Homo sapiens: one gene and its partner. Each later gene encodes a partner of the first gene's protein in a complex. Each region holds a gene or a part of one and is shown on either strand. Other genes may lie near its edges.

The links. Proteins that work in one complex are often made in the same cells at the same time.
Region 2: NUP85 (region 1) and NUP153 share a complex: the UniProt entries of both Homo sapiens proteins name them as parts of the nuclear pore complex.

Annotation. Positions count from the first base shown.
Region 1 is NC_000017.11:75,201,839-75,208,707, reverse strand, and holds the start of NUP85 (nuclear pore complex protein Nup85), read right to left. Parts: upstream 3,030-6,869; 5' UTR 2,947-3,029; coding exon 2,914-2,946; intron 182-2,913; coding exon 88-181; intron 1-87. UniProt on the Homo sapiens protein: Essential component of the nuclear pore complex (NPC) that seems to be required for NPC assembly and maintenance. As part of the NPC Nup107-160 subcomplex plays a role in RNA export and in tethering NUP96/Nup98 and NUP153 to the nucleus.
Region 2 is NC_000006.12:17,614,507-17,619,925, forward strand, and holds the end of NUP153 (nuclear pore complex protein Nup153), read right to left. Parts: intron 2,190-5,419; coding exon 2,021-2,189; intron 1,676-2,020; coding exon 1,591-1,675; 3' UTR 531-1,590; downstream 1-530. UniProt on the Homo sapiens protein: Component of the nuclear pore complex (NPC), a complex required for the trafficking across the nuclear envelope. Functions as a scaffolding element in the nuclear phase of the NPC essential for normal nucleocytoplasmic transport of proteins and mRNAs.

The DNA.
Region 1 (6,869 bases):
AGTCCACAACTAGTAAAATCTGAGGTAATAAACAGAAAAACAACCAAATGTGCCAAGATGGATAATTTGGAAGAAAAAAAACCCTACCTTTTTTGTTGAAGGAGGTTTCACATACCAGCATCTCCCCTGGACCCCAGTCAAAATACATTTGGTTCTTCTTGGAATTCACGCCTGGAATCAACTAGTAAAATAAGGCATAGAAATCTAAAATGAAAAATGTTCTTCTTACTGAAGTTGTTCCATTCTTTTTTTTTTTTTTTTTTTTTTGAGACAAAGACTCACTCTAACAGGCTGGTGTACAGTGGTGTAATCTCAGCTTGCTCCAATCGCCGCCTCCTGGGTTCAAAGGCTTCTCCTGCCTCAACCTCCTGAGTAGCTGGGACTACAGGTGTGTGCAACCACACCCGGCTATTTTTTTTTTTTTTTTCATTTTTAGTAGAGATAGAGTTTCACCATATTGCCCAGGCTGGTCACAAACTCCTGAGTTCAGGTGATCCGTCCGCCTCAGCCTCCCAAAGTGCTAGGACTACAGGCGCGAGCCACCGTGCCCGCCCTGCTGAAAAACACTTTAAGTGAAGAGCACAGCTGGTCCTCTAATAACACTGTATCCTTCAATAACATTTCCTTATAACACTGGTAAGAAAAATTCATTTTGGGCCGGCAGCGGGGTGGCTCCTGCCAGCACTTTGGGAGGCTAAGGCGGGCAGATCATCTGAGGTCAGGAGTTCGAACTCTTGTTGCCCAGGCTGGACTGCAGTGACGCAATCTCGACTCACTGCAACCTCTGCCTGCTGGGTTCAAGTGATTCTCCTGCCTCAGCTTCTTGAGTAGGTGGGATTACAGGCACGCGCCACCAAACCAGGCTAATTTTTGTATTTTTTTAGTAGAGATGGGGTTTCACCATGTTGGCCAGGTTGATCTCGAACTCCTAGCCAAGCGCGGTGGCTCATGCCTGTAATCCCAGCACTTTGGGAGGCCGAGGCAGGCTGATCACGAGGTCAGGCTTTGGAGACCAGCCTGACCAAGATGGTGAAACCCCATCTCTACCAAAAATACAAAAATTAGCTGGGTGTGGTGGCACGCACCTGTAATCTCAGCTACTCAGGAGACTGAGGCAGAAGAATCGCTTGAACCCAGGAGCCAGAGGTTGCAGTGAGCTGAGATCACGCCACTGCACTCCACTCTGGGTGACAGAGTGAGAATCCGTCTCAAAAAAAGAATGAGGCCAGGCGCAGTGGCTCACACTTGTAATCCCAGCACTTTGGGAGACTGAGGCCGGCAGATCACCTGAGGTCAGGAGTTCCAGACCAGCCTGACCAACATGGAGAAACCTCGTCTCTACTAAAAAAATACAAAATTAGCCGGGCATGGTGGCACATGCCTGCAATCCCAGCTACTCAGGAGGCTGAGGCAGGAGAATTGCTTGAACCTGGGAGGCGGAGGTTGCAGAGAGCCGAGACCGCACCACTGCACTCTAGCCTGGGCGACAAGAGGGAAACTCCGCCTCAAGAGAAAAAAAAAAGAAGGCCACATATCTCCCCAGAGAGCTTCCCTCACAAATTGCTCACAAGGAAATTCCTTGTGAGCCTCTAAAATTTTCAGGATACACATCGCCCCTATAAACTAGTCCTAAAATCAAGATCTGTTGATTCTGACAATGTCAACTACCAGCTTATCTTCACAAGTAAAAGACCAGAAATCGGCCGGGTGCGGTGGCTCACGCCTGTAATCCCAGCACTTTGGGAGGCCGAGGTGGGCGGATCACGAGGTCAGGAGATTGAGACCATCCTGGCCAACACGGTGAAACCCCGTCTCTACTAAAAATACAAAAAAGTACAAAAAATTAGCCGGGCGTGGTGGCGGGCACCTGTAGTCCCAGCTACTCAGGAGGCTGAGGCAGGAGAATGGTGTGAACCCGGGAGGCGGAGGTTACAGTGAGCCGAGACCGCGCCACTGCACTCCAGCCTGGGAGACAGAGCGAGACTCCGTCTAAAAAATAACAGTAATAATAACCATAATCCCTCTACCTACCCTGAGATGAATGCATACATAAAATTTTCCTCTGCTCCCTCTTTTCACAGGTAAAATGCAGATTTACTGAGGCTAATCACCGACTCACAAGAATGTAATCATTTGCCTCCTCACTGCCTAACCTCCCTTTTTTGCCCCTCCTGCTAGCTCCTTCCTCTTTAACTAGTGATGTTCCCAAAACCATCTTTGGAAAAAGCACAGGTCTCAGATCCTCCTGTGACCTGTGCTTTTTCCCGGTTGGATCCTCAACCTTAGCTAATTAAACCTTTATCGGTTGAGACCTGCCTCAGTCACTTCTGGTTAACAAGAGGGAAAACAAGAGCAATCCAACTAGCAGAAACGGTAGGTATCTCGTACATAAAGCGCGTGAATTTTTTTTATACACATCACAGATCATCCACAGTTGACATACTGTCTTCAAAGTTCAAATGGAATTGAATGCACAGCGATAAAACAGGAATAGTCTCCTGAGATAATACGTTGAATAAACCTTAGGCCACACAGGCAGAAGCTCAATGTGCCGCGATGCAGAGCTTAATACGGCTGGAATAAAAATATAAATTCCTCTGCTTGGGCTGAACCCACTCTAATGCCCAAGAGGAAAAGCAAGGGAAGTAAAAAGGCCAGGAACACAAAGGAAGGAAAGGGACGGAGTGGGACCTTCGAGGCCGGGGTTTGTGACTGGTGGCAGAAACCCCGCGACCACTGCGACCCTAGGGCGGGCACCTCGTTAACACTGCGACCTCCGGAAAAGTGGCAACTGAGTCGAGGGAAGGGGACGAGCGCCTCGCGACCACTAGGGAAGCAGACAAGCCTGAAGTAACTAAGCAGACGCAGTTCTCAACCCGCAAGGACGAGCAAGCCTGTTCGGGGTACCCTTACAGTGACTGTTGGCTCGCCATCGAGCTCCTCCATAGCGCCGAACCCCAGGCTCCTAGAAGTCGCTCGGACGCCAATGCTTCCCGCTCAGGCCTCCCGCTCAGAGCTGGCTGCGAGACAAGACTCCGCCTGGGCGTCTCCTGCAGCGCCTGCAAGCCCAAACCCTCAGTGCTGCGGCGCTGTCTCCTCTCAGCCACGGCCACCCCTCTGCGGTCCTCTGCACGCGTCCTTCCTTCCTGGCGTCGACAGCAAATCAGGGAAAACAGCGCCGAGGACTGACTGCACTCAGAGTACCGCGCTAACAGGATCAGGCGGCGCCGGGGACACCCTGGTGCCGAGCGGAGAAAAGGCCCCCGGAGACGGCGGGAGGGGCAGGAGGACCCCGGGGCTGGAGACGGTGCGAATGCGCGTGCGTAGGCTGGGGCGGCGGCACTTGGGTGGGAACTCGTGCGGGATTTAGGTCCCAGTAAGCGTACAACGTCTCCCAACTCTGGGAGTCCTCGCTACATCCCGGTCTCCACCTTAGTGTCGTCGCAGCCACTTGTCCAAACCCCGACAGTCAAACGGGCTTGTGCTGGAAAGCAATCGCCTCCACTTCCACACTAGAACACACACAAGAGGCACGGGAACAAAATCGATACCCCTGAAGGCCCGGCGCTGTGGCTCAAGCCTCTAATCCCAACACTTTGGCAGCCCAAGGTGGGTGGATCACTGGAGTTCAGGAGTTCAAGACCAGTCTGGCCAATATGATGAAACCTCGTCTCTACTAAAAATATAAAAAATTAGACGGGCGTGGTGGCGGACACCTGTAATTCCAGCTACTCGGAAGGCTGAGGCAAGAGAATTGTTCCAACCCGGGAGGTGGAGGTTGCATTGAGCCAAGATCGCACCACTGCACTCCAGCCTGGGAGACAGAGCGAGACTCCGTCTCAAAAAAAAAAAAAAAAATTAGCTGTGCTTGGTAGCGCGCGCCTGTAATCCCAGCACTCCGGGACGCCGAGGTGGTTGGATCACCTGAGGTCAGGAGTTCAAGACCAGCCTGGACAACATGGCGAAACCCCGTCTCTACTGAAAATACAAAAATTAGCCGGGAGTGGTGGCGGACACCTGTAATCCCAGCTACTCGTAAGGCTGAGGCAGGAGAATTGTTCCAACCCGGGAGGCGGAGGTTGCAGTGAGCCAAGATCGCGCCACTGCACTCCATCCTGGGCGACAGACGGAGACTCCGTCTCAAAAAAAAAAAAATTATTTTGCTGAGTCTCAAAAAAAAATTATTTTGCTCTTTTTCTCTTAATAAGTTTCCGTTATACCTCAAGTTGGAGTTATCGCCTGTGTAATTGAAAACTTTTCCAGAGTTAAATACAGTTTGAGAGTTAACCACTCTAGAGAGAGGAAGGGGAAAAGAGAGGGGAAGGAGCCACACTCTTTTAGAGAGAGGGGAGGAGAGGAAAGAGAAAAATAAGTTGTAAGATAATTGTTTCATTTTTCCAACCGTTTTCCATTAGGATTAACTGAAAAAGAAGGATACATAAACTACTTCATCAAAACCTTATTCTTAGAAATCTATAGAAAGGTTGAGGAAGGAAAAGGTCCATATATAGTATGCGTAATCAGTATATAGAACAAGGATAGGCCGGGCGCGGTGGCTCACGCCTGTAATCTCAGCGCTTTGGGAGGCCGAGGCGGGTGGATCACCAGGTCAGGAGAGAGAGACCATCCTGGCTAACACGGTGAAACCCCATCTCTACTAAAAATACAAAAAAAAAAAAAAAAAAAAAAAAAAATCAGCCGGGCGTGGTGGCGGGTGCCTGTAGTCCCAGCTCCTCGGGAGGCTGAGACAGGAGAATGGCGTGAACCGGGGAGGCGGAGCTTGCAGTGAACCGAGATTGCACCGCTGCACTCCAGCCTGGGCGACAGAGCGAGACTCCGTCTCAAAAAAAAAAAAGAACAAGGATAGCACTATTAGCTGTAGTTTTCCTTTTTCGCCCTTGTATTACTAAGCCTATTTGAATGATTGGGTAAAATGGTTGGTATATAGCAGTATTAGACCAAAGAATATTGCCAATACTTTTTCCTCAATGTTATCTAGCTCTTGGTCAGGCAATTTAACTACTTTTATTATCTTAAATGGCATTTTGTCAGCCTTAAAATAAAAATAATCAAGGAAATATAGCACTAAGATCTAACAAGCTCTCTCTCTCTTTTTTTTTTCTTTGTCTTTTTTTTTTTTTTTTTTTTTTTGTCTTTTTGAGACAGAGTCTTGCTCTGTCGCCAGGCTGGAGTGGAGTGGCACGATCTCGGCTTACTGCAACCTCCGTCTCCCGGGTTCAAGCGATTCTGCTGCCTAAGCCTCCCGAGCAGCTGGGACTACAGGCACACGCCACTACGCCGGGCTAATTTTTTATTTTTTAGTAGAGACGGGGTTTCGCCATATTGGTCAGGCTGGACTCGAACGCCTGACCTCAGGTGATCCACCCGCCTCAGACTCCCAAAGTGCTAGGGTTACAGGCATGAGCCACCGCACCCAGCCTGGTAAAGTCTTAAGTGGATACATTTCATGCAGCCTAATAAAACTAATGCTCCTGAACCGGGCACAGTGTACATTATTTAACAAAATCTCTGGCCTCAGCCTGGGCAACAGGGCAAGAGCAAGATGCTGTCTCAAAAAATAAAAAATAAAAAAAGGCCGGGCGCGGTGGCTCACGCCTATAATCCCAACACTTCGGGAGGCCGAGGCGGGCGGATTACCTGAGCTCAGGAGTTCAAGACCAGCCTGGGCAACAAGATGAAACCCCGTCTCCACTAAAATACAAAAAATTATTTGGTCATGGCGGTTGTGCGCCTGTAGTCCCAGCTACTGAGGCTGAGGCAGGAGAATCGTTTGAACCCTGGAGGCGGAGGTTGCAGTGAGCCAAGATCATACCACTGCACTCCAGCCCGGACGACAGTGTAAGACTCCCTCTCAAAAAAAAAAAAAAAAAAAAAAAAAAAAAAAAAAAAAAAAACTCTAGCTGGAACTAGTGGCACATACCTGTAGCCCTAGCTACAGCAAGAGGAAGGAGACTGAGGCCAGAGGATTTCTTGAGCCCAGGAGTTCAAGTCAAGGCTGCAGTGAACTACGATTGTTATAGCACTATACTCCAGCAAGACCCTGTTTCAAAAGCAACAATATGGCCAGGCGCAGTGGCTCACGCCTGTTATCCCAGCACTTTGGGAGGCCGAGGTGGGCGGATCACGAGGTCAGCAGTTCGAGACCAGCCTGGCCAATATGGTGAAACCCCGTCTCTACTAAAACTACAAAAATTAGGCATGGTGGCAGGCACCCGTAATCCCAGCTACTCCGGAGGCTGAGGCAGGAGAATCACTTGAACCCGGGAGGCGGAGGTTGCAGTGAGCCAAAACCATGCCATTGCATTCCAGCCTGGGTGACAGAGGGAGACTCCGTCTCAGAAAGAAAAAAAAAAAACAAAAACAAAAAAACAGGCTGGGTGCGGTGGCTCACACCTGTAATCCCAGTAGTTTGGGAGGCTGAGGTGGGCAGATCACCTGAGGTCAGGAGTTCGAAACCAGCCTGGACCAACATGGTGAAACACAGTCTCTACTAAAAATACAAAAATCAGCTGGGCTTCATGGCATCCGCCTGTAATCCCAGCTACTAGGGAGACTGAGGCAAGAGAATCGCTTGAACCCAGGAGGCAGAGGTTGTGGTGAGATGAGATCACGTCATTGCACTCCAGCCTGGGCAACAAGAGCAAAACTCCAACTCAAAAAAACAAAACAAAACAAAACAAAACAACACCCCACCAAGAACAAGAACTCCAACTTCTGACCTTTACCCACTAGATGCCAATAACATCCCACAATTGTGAAAACTGAAAATATCTGCATATATTCCCAGTGTCCTCTAGGGGGCAAAATCACCTCTGTTAAGAGCTGCTGGTATATATGTTCAACCGTAG
Region 2 (5,419 bases), on another chromosome or scaffold:
AACAGATCAAAAACACAGTATTCGTGGGATATAAAACCTGCACATTCGGAGGGCTGGCTTTTGGTATACTCAGGTTCTGCAGGGTCCACTGCTGAAATTTGTGGATTGTGGTTTGGGGGCGGGAGAACTGGGGGGGGGGGGGAGTGCAGTTCTGGGAACAATCTCCTGCACACACCAAGAGACAACTGTAGTTTTTGTGTATGTATTTCCAAGAACTTTAATAAACACTATCCAGTAACTTACCAAGGAAGATAGAAGCACAAAGAGAAATGAATGTGTGTATTTTCAACTTTTAAAAAAGGTACCTAAGTCGATATGCAAATTAGGCATGATTCCTAGCACCAGGCAAGAAGTAGGGTACCTTCTATATGTTGTGCATTCAGATACTTTCAGATACTTTCCCTTTCTCTTAGGAGTTGTCTAAATCATGTCAATGTATTCTTCTAATGAGACACTGTTAATCTTTATTTTACAAAGTCCCCCCAATAATACTGTGTGCCTTCATTATGAGGTAAAACTAGAACAAAAAGTATGTCATAATTTTTTATTGATGGCATTTATCCCATGGTTTAACATGTTAATTATACTGTAATAAACATGGCTTTAATATTAAACTTTTCCTTATTATCCAAAGTCACCACAGTCCATTTTAGTAAATATAAAAATATATGCTTAATACTTTGTACAATACTGGTTTTTGGTCCAAACAAAACTGGATCAGAAAAGCCAATAAATTCAACTTTAAGAATCCCCAATTTTTTTTTTAAAGATTTCCAAATGGATTTAGGCAACTTTGAATAATGGGATTTACATAATAAAATCTGAGACAAGACTAAACAAACAACAAAAAAATCTCTAACACAAAATTCAAATTTCAAGTTCACAGATTTATGTTATGCCAAAAAGTACAGAAACAAAATTGTATTTACACAAGTTTCATAATAAAATAATGAAAAAGGCAAGACAGGTGATAGGAGAATGAAAATATAGAAATAGCATATAATTATTAAATGGAGAGTGAACTAGATCTAACAAGTCCTTAGCACGGACCATTCTTTAATCAGGCTTCCTCTATCAGAAAAGTTTAGCGCACAATACACCCAACTCACTCACTTCACACATACACCAGCACAAACTCAGCATAGAAATCATCCGTTTCAACACTCTCTAATCTATACAGAATTCTAATCTATACAGAATTCCTCAGATATAATTACAATTTCAACGCGTTCCATGAACGCTTATCAGCGCACATAATGGTGTAGACAAAGAGGTTCTATACAAAGCCATTCACCGTGCAGGCTCCATTCCTGGGTACAGCCAGACTATGTCAAATCAGTGAATAATCTGCTGGATCATAAAATATTTTTGCTGAAGAATCAGTCACCAGTCTAGCTATTTATTTATTTAAAAAAGGGTGGGTGAGGCAGGGTGGGGCTTCTGTAACGAAAGAGAAAGGAGGAAAATTCCAAAATTAAAGAAGTCCTTAGGCAGATCTGACTTCAGATAACCCCAGCACAAAGTACAATCCAGTATCTGAAAGCAGGGCACCAGCTGTTGTTAAAATTGAGTACAACACCAATGTGACCTTTATTTCCTGCGTCTAACAGCAGTCTTTATCTTGCGACCAGAGAATGAAGTTCCAGAAGAAGAGAACACATTTTTCCCATTTGACCTGTGAAAAATAAAAACTTCATAATGTGACATGATGCTCTGAGCAAAATTTCCAAATGCTAACATTTACCATGAGCAGCACAAGGGTAAGGGGGGTCGGGTGGGGGGGGAGTAGACTCACATTGGTATATACATTTTCTGCTACACCTAACACACACGCTACTGTTATTTTTTTCTCAAACTGTAATATAATCCTCCAGAATTATAGTATGGTAAATTTATGTTGGAGAACATATTTAATTTTACCCAAACCATACGGAATCTTGATGACTTTTAAAAACAAAACATATACATGCACATACCCTTACCAATGTAACTTCTCCATTTCAATAAAAAATTCTCTTACCCCACTGTAAATGCTGCTGGAGACTGGTTAAATGGAAAGCCCCCCGAGCCTGAAGGCTGGGCTGAGGCTGCAGGTGTGCTAGAATTTGCACCAAATGTGAACACTCCTGATGGACTGTTGTTTGTGAAGTTGAAATTTGTAGTGCTGCTGCCAAACTGGAAAGCCGAACCTGCAATAGTTAAAGCAGAAATACTTCATTAGGGCAAAATGATAGGTTTTTTTGTTTGTTTGTTTGTTTTTTGAGACGGAGTCTCGCTCTCTTGCCCAGGCTGGAGTACAGTGGCACAATCTTGGCTCACTGCAACCCTTGCCTCCTGGGTTCAAGTGATTCCCCTGCCTCAGCCTCCCCAGTAGCTGGGACTATATAGGTGCGTGCCACCATGCCTGGCTAATTTTTTGTATTTTAGTAGAGACGTGGTTTCACCATGTTGGCCAGGATGGTCTCGATCTCCTGACCTTGTGATCTGTCCACCTCGGCCTCCCAAAGTGCTGGATTACAGGCGTAAGCCACTGCACCCGGCCGCAACATGATAGGTTTTTAAATTAAAGACTCTGACCTTTACATATAAAAACATGCAAAGAATTAAAATATTCTGGTCTTTTAATCTAAAGAAAACTATTTTCTCCACTGACACATAGTACATACTTGACACCTCCAACAAATCACACAACTTACCTATGACCAAGGGGAAAAGGGCACCCTGGACTTATGGTTAAAGACAGTGAAATCAACAAATACACTTAGCTCTATCTTCTTTGAAAAGTGCATTAAAACAACAAGGGATTTTTACAAAGATATAGGTTTAGAAGCTGGAAGGCTGACTAGAGTTGATACTAAACGAGCAGTAGGGAAAGAACAGAAGCAATTGCATTTACACCAAACATACCCAAAATGTTTAGGTTCCAGATACCTATGGAAGTGAGGATGTAGTGGGAATTAAAAAAAAAAAAAAAAAAAAAGGATGGCAGAGTATGTTTAGAAGCAGATACCCAGAATCAATCCCTCCCAACACCAACACAAAGATGGTAATTATCAGTGGGTGCAGTGACTCATGCGTATAATCCTAGCACTTTGGGAGGCCAAGGCAGGTGGACTGCTTGAGCCCAGGAGTTTGAGAACAACCTAGGCAACATGGCGAGATCCTATCTCTATAAAAAATTTTTCAAAATTAGCCAGGCGTAGTGGCGTGCACCTGTAATCCCAGCTACTCAGGAGGCTGAGGTGGGAAGATCTTCTGAGCCTAGGAGGTCGAGGACGCAGTGTGCCCTGACTCTGCCACTGCCTTCCAGCCTGGGAAACAGAGTGAGACCCTATCTCAGAAGGAAAAGAAAAAAAAAGAAAAAAAAGATGGTAATTCTCCTCTTCCACCGCACCAGAACAGAAGTTTAGTGTTTTAGTCTTTGTAGAAGTGTCTGGACTGGGAGACACCACATACAGTTAAGGGCAAGAATATCATTTTGAAAACAGGAATTAAGTGTAGCTCGATATTCACAAAATACCGAGCGCTCCAGCCATCTTCCCAATCTTAGCTCCCAGAACACTGGCAAATGAAGTTCTCTGATACCCTCCATGCAGGAGACTGGATGCATCTTCTTTGGGGTATCTGACAGACTAAGTGAAAAGAATGAAGGATACTAACATCCAAACTTTCCCAAGTAAAATAATGCTAGATAAACCAGATAAATCTACAATGAAATTCAAGATCTGTAAGCCCTATCAATGTAGAAAGGATTTAAGTGGTATTTACGTGTCCTACACTCATAACAACTACAGGTAGCCAAGGAGTACCAGGCATTTGAGGACAGTATTTAATAAGAAACACTGAGACAAAAATAATAAAAGCAATTTTGGGAAAACTGACTCAGCAAAGAAACAAAATTTTAAGGAGAAAAATCTGAACTCCATATCTTTAATGAATACTTCATCCACTGGAGAGTTGGGTGGGGGGGAACCCAGAGGGGCATAAAAAGGAAACATCCAGAAAATAAAAAAGAATACTTAGAAATTAAAGAAATAGTGGAAGTTAAAATCTCTCTTTTTTTTTTTTTTTTTTTTAAAGATGGAGTCTGGCTCTGTTGCCCAGGCTGGAGTGCAGTGGCACGGTCTCAGCTCACTGCAAGCTCCACCTCCCGAGTTCACGCCATTCTCCTGCCTCAGTCTCCTGAGTAGCTGGGACTACAGGCGCCCGCCACCACGCCTGGCTAATTTTTTGTATTTCTTAGTAGAGATGGGGTTTCACCGTGTTAGCCAGGATGGTCTCGATATCCTGACCTCGTGATCTGCCCGCCTTGGCCTCCCAAAGTGCTGGGATTACAGGCGTGAGCCACTGCGCCCAGCAGAAGTTAAAATCTCAACAGAATGGTAATGAAAGATAAATCTGAGAAAGTATGACACAAAGACAAAAGGTAAGAAGGAAAGGAAGGATTAGGGGACAAAATCTTCAAATAAATAATTCAGGAAAATTCCCCAAAATGGAAGTTCACAAAAGAGCATGCTGCACTCCCTACACAAACGATAAAAACAAACCCACATCAAGACACATCCTGATGTATCAGAACAATGGAGGCAAAAGAGGAGAGTCTAACAATTCCAGAAAGAAGAAACAGGCCAAAGAGCAAAGATCAAGACTTCAGGCAACTCTGGAAGCCAGAAAAGTCTACAATGGAGAAATGCTTTCAAAATTATAAAAATGATTTCCAATCTACATCTATATTCAATCAAAATCTTACCAAACATGGGGAGAGAATAAAGATCCCTGCAGAGATGTATGGCCTCAATGTTTTCCATCCCTGAACCCTCAAGAATCACTGGAAGATGTGCTGTATCAGAAAATAGGGGAGTAACAGGAAAGACATGACACCCAGGAAACGGGTTCCTCTACGAAGCTAAAAGGAATCTCCAAAAGAATGGTAAAAAGAGGTTTCCCAAGAGCACAGTTAAACAGCAAGCCAAGAAAGCCTGGTAGGAGGAACAGGTTAAAAGACCCTGTGAGAAAAGTTCTTTCAGTGCTTACTTCAGCAGCACATACCCAAAACTTGAACAAAGAAGATTAGCATGGCCCCCTGCACAAGGATGACACCCAAATTTGTGAAGTGTTCTATATTTTTAAACTAAAAACTGATGAAAGAAATTAAAGAGAACACAAACAAATGTAAAGACATCCTATATTCATGGATCAGAAGAACTATTATTGTTAAAATGGCCATACTACTCAAAGCAATCTATGGATTCAATGCAATCCCTACCAAAAATACCAATGACATTCTCCATAGAAATAGAAACATATCCGGCCAGGCGCTGTGGCTCACACCTATAATCCTAGCAGTTTGGGAGGCCGAGGCGGGCAGATCACCTGAGGTCAGGAGTTCGAGACCAGCGTGGCCAACATGGCAAAACCC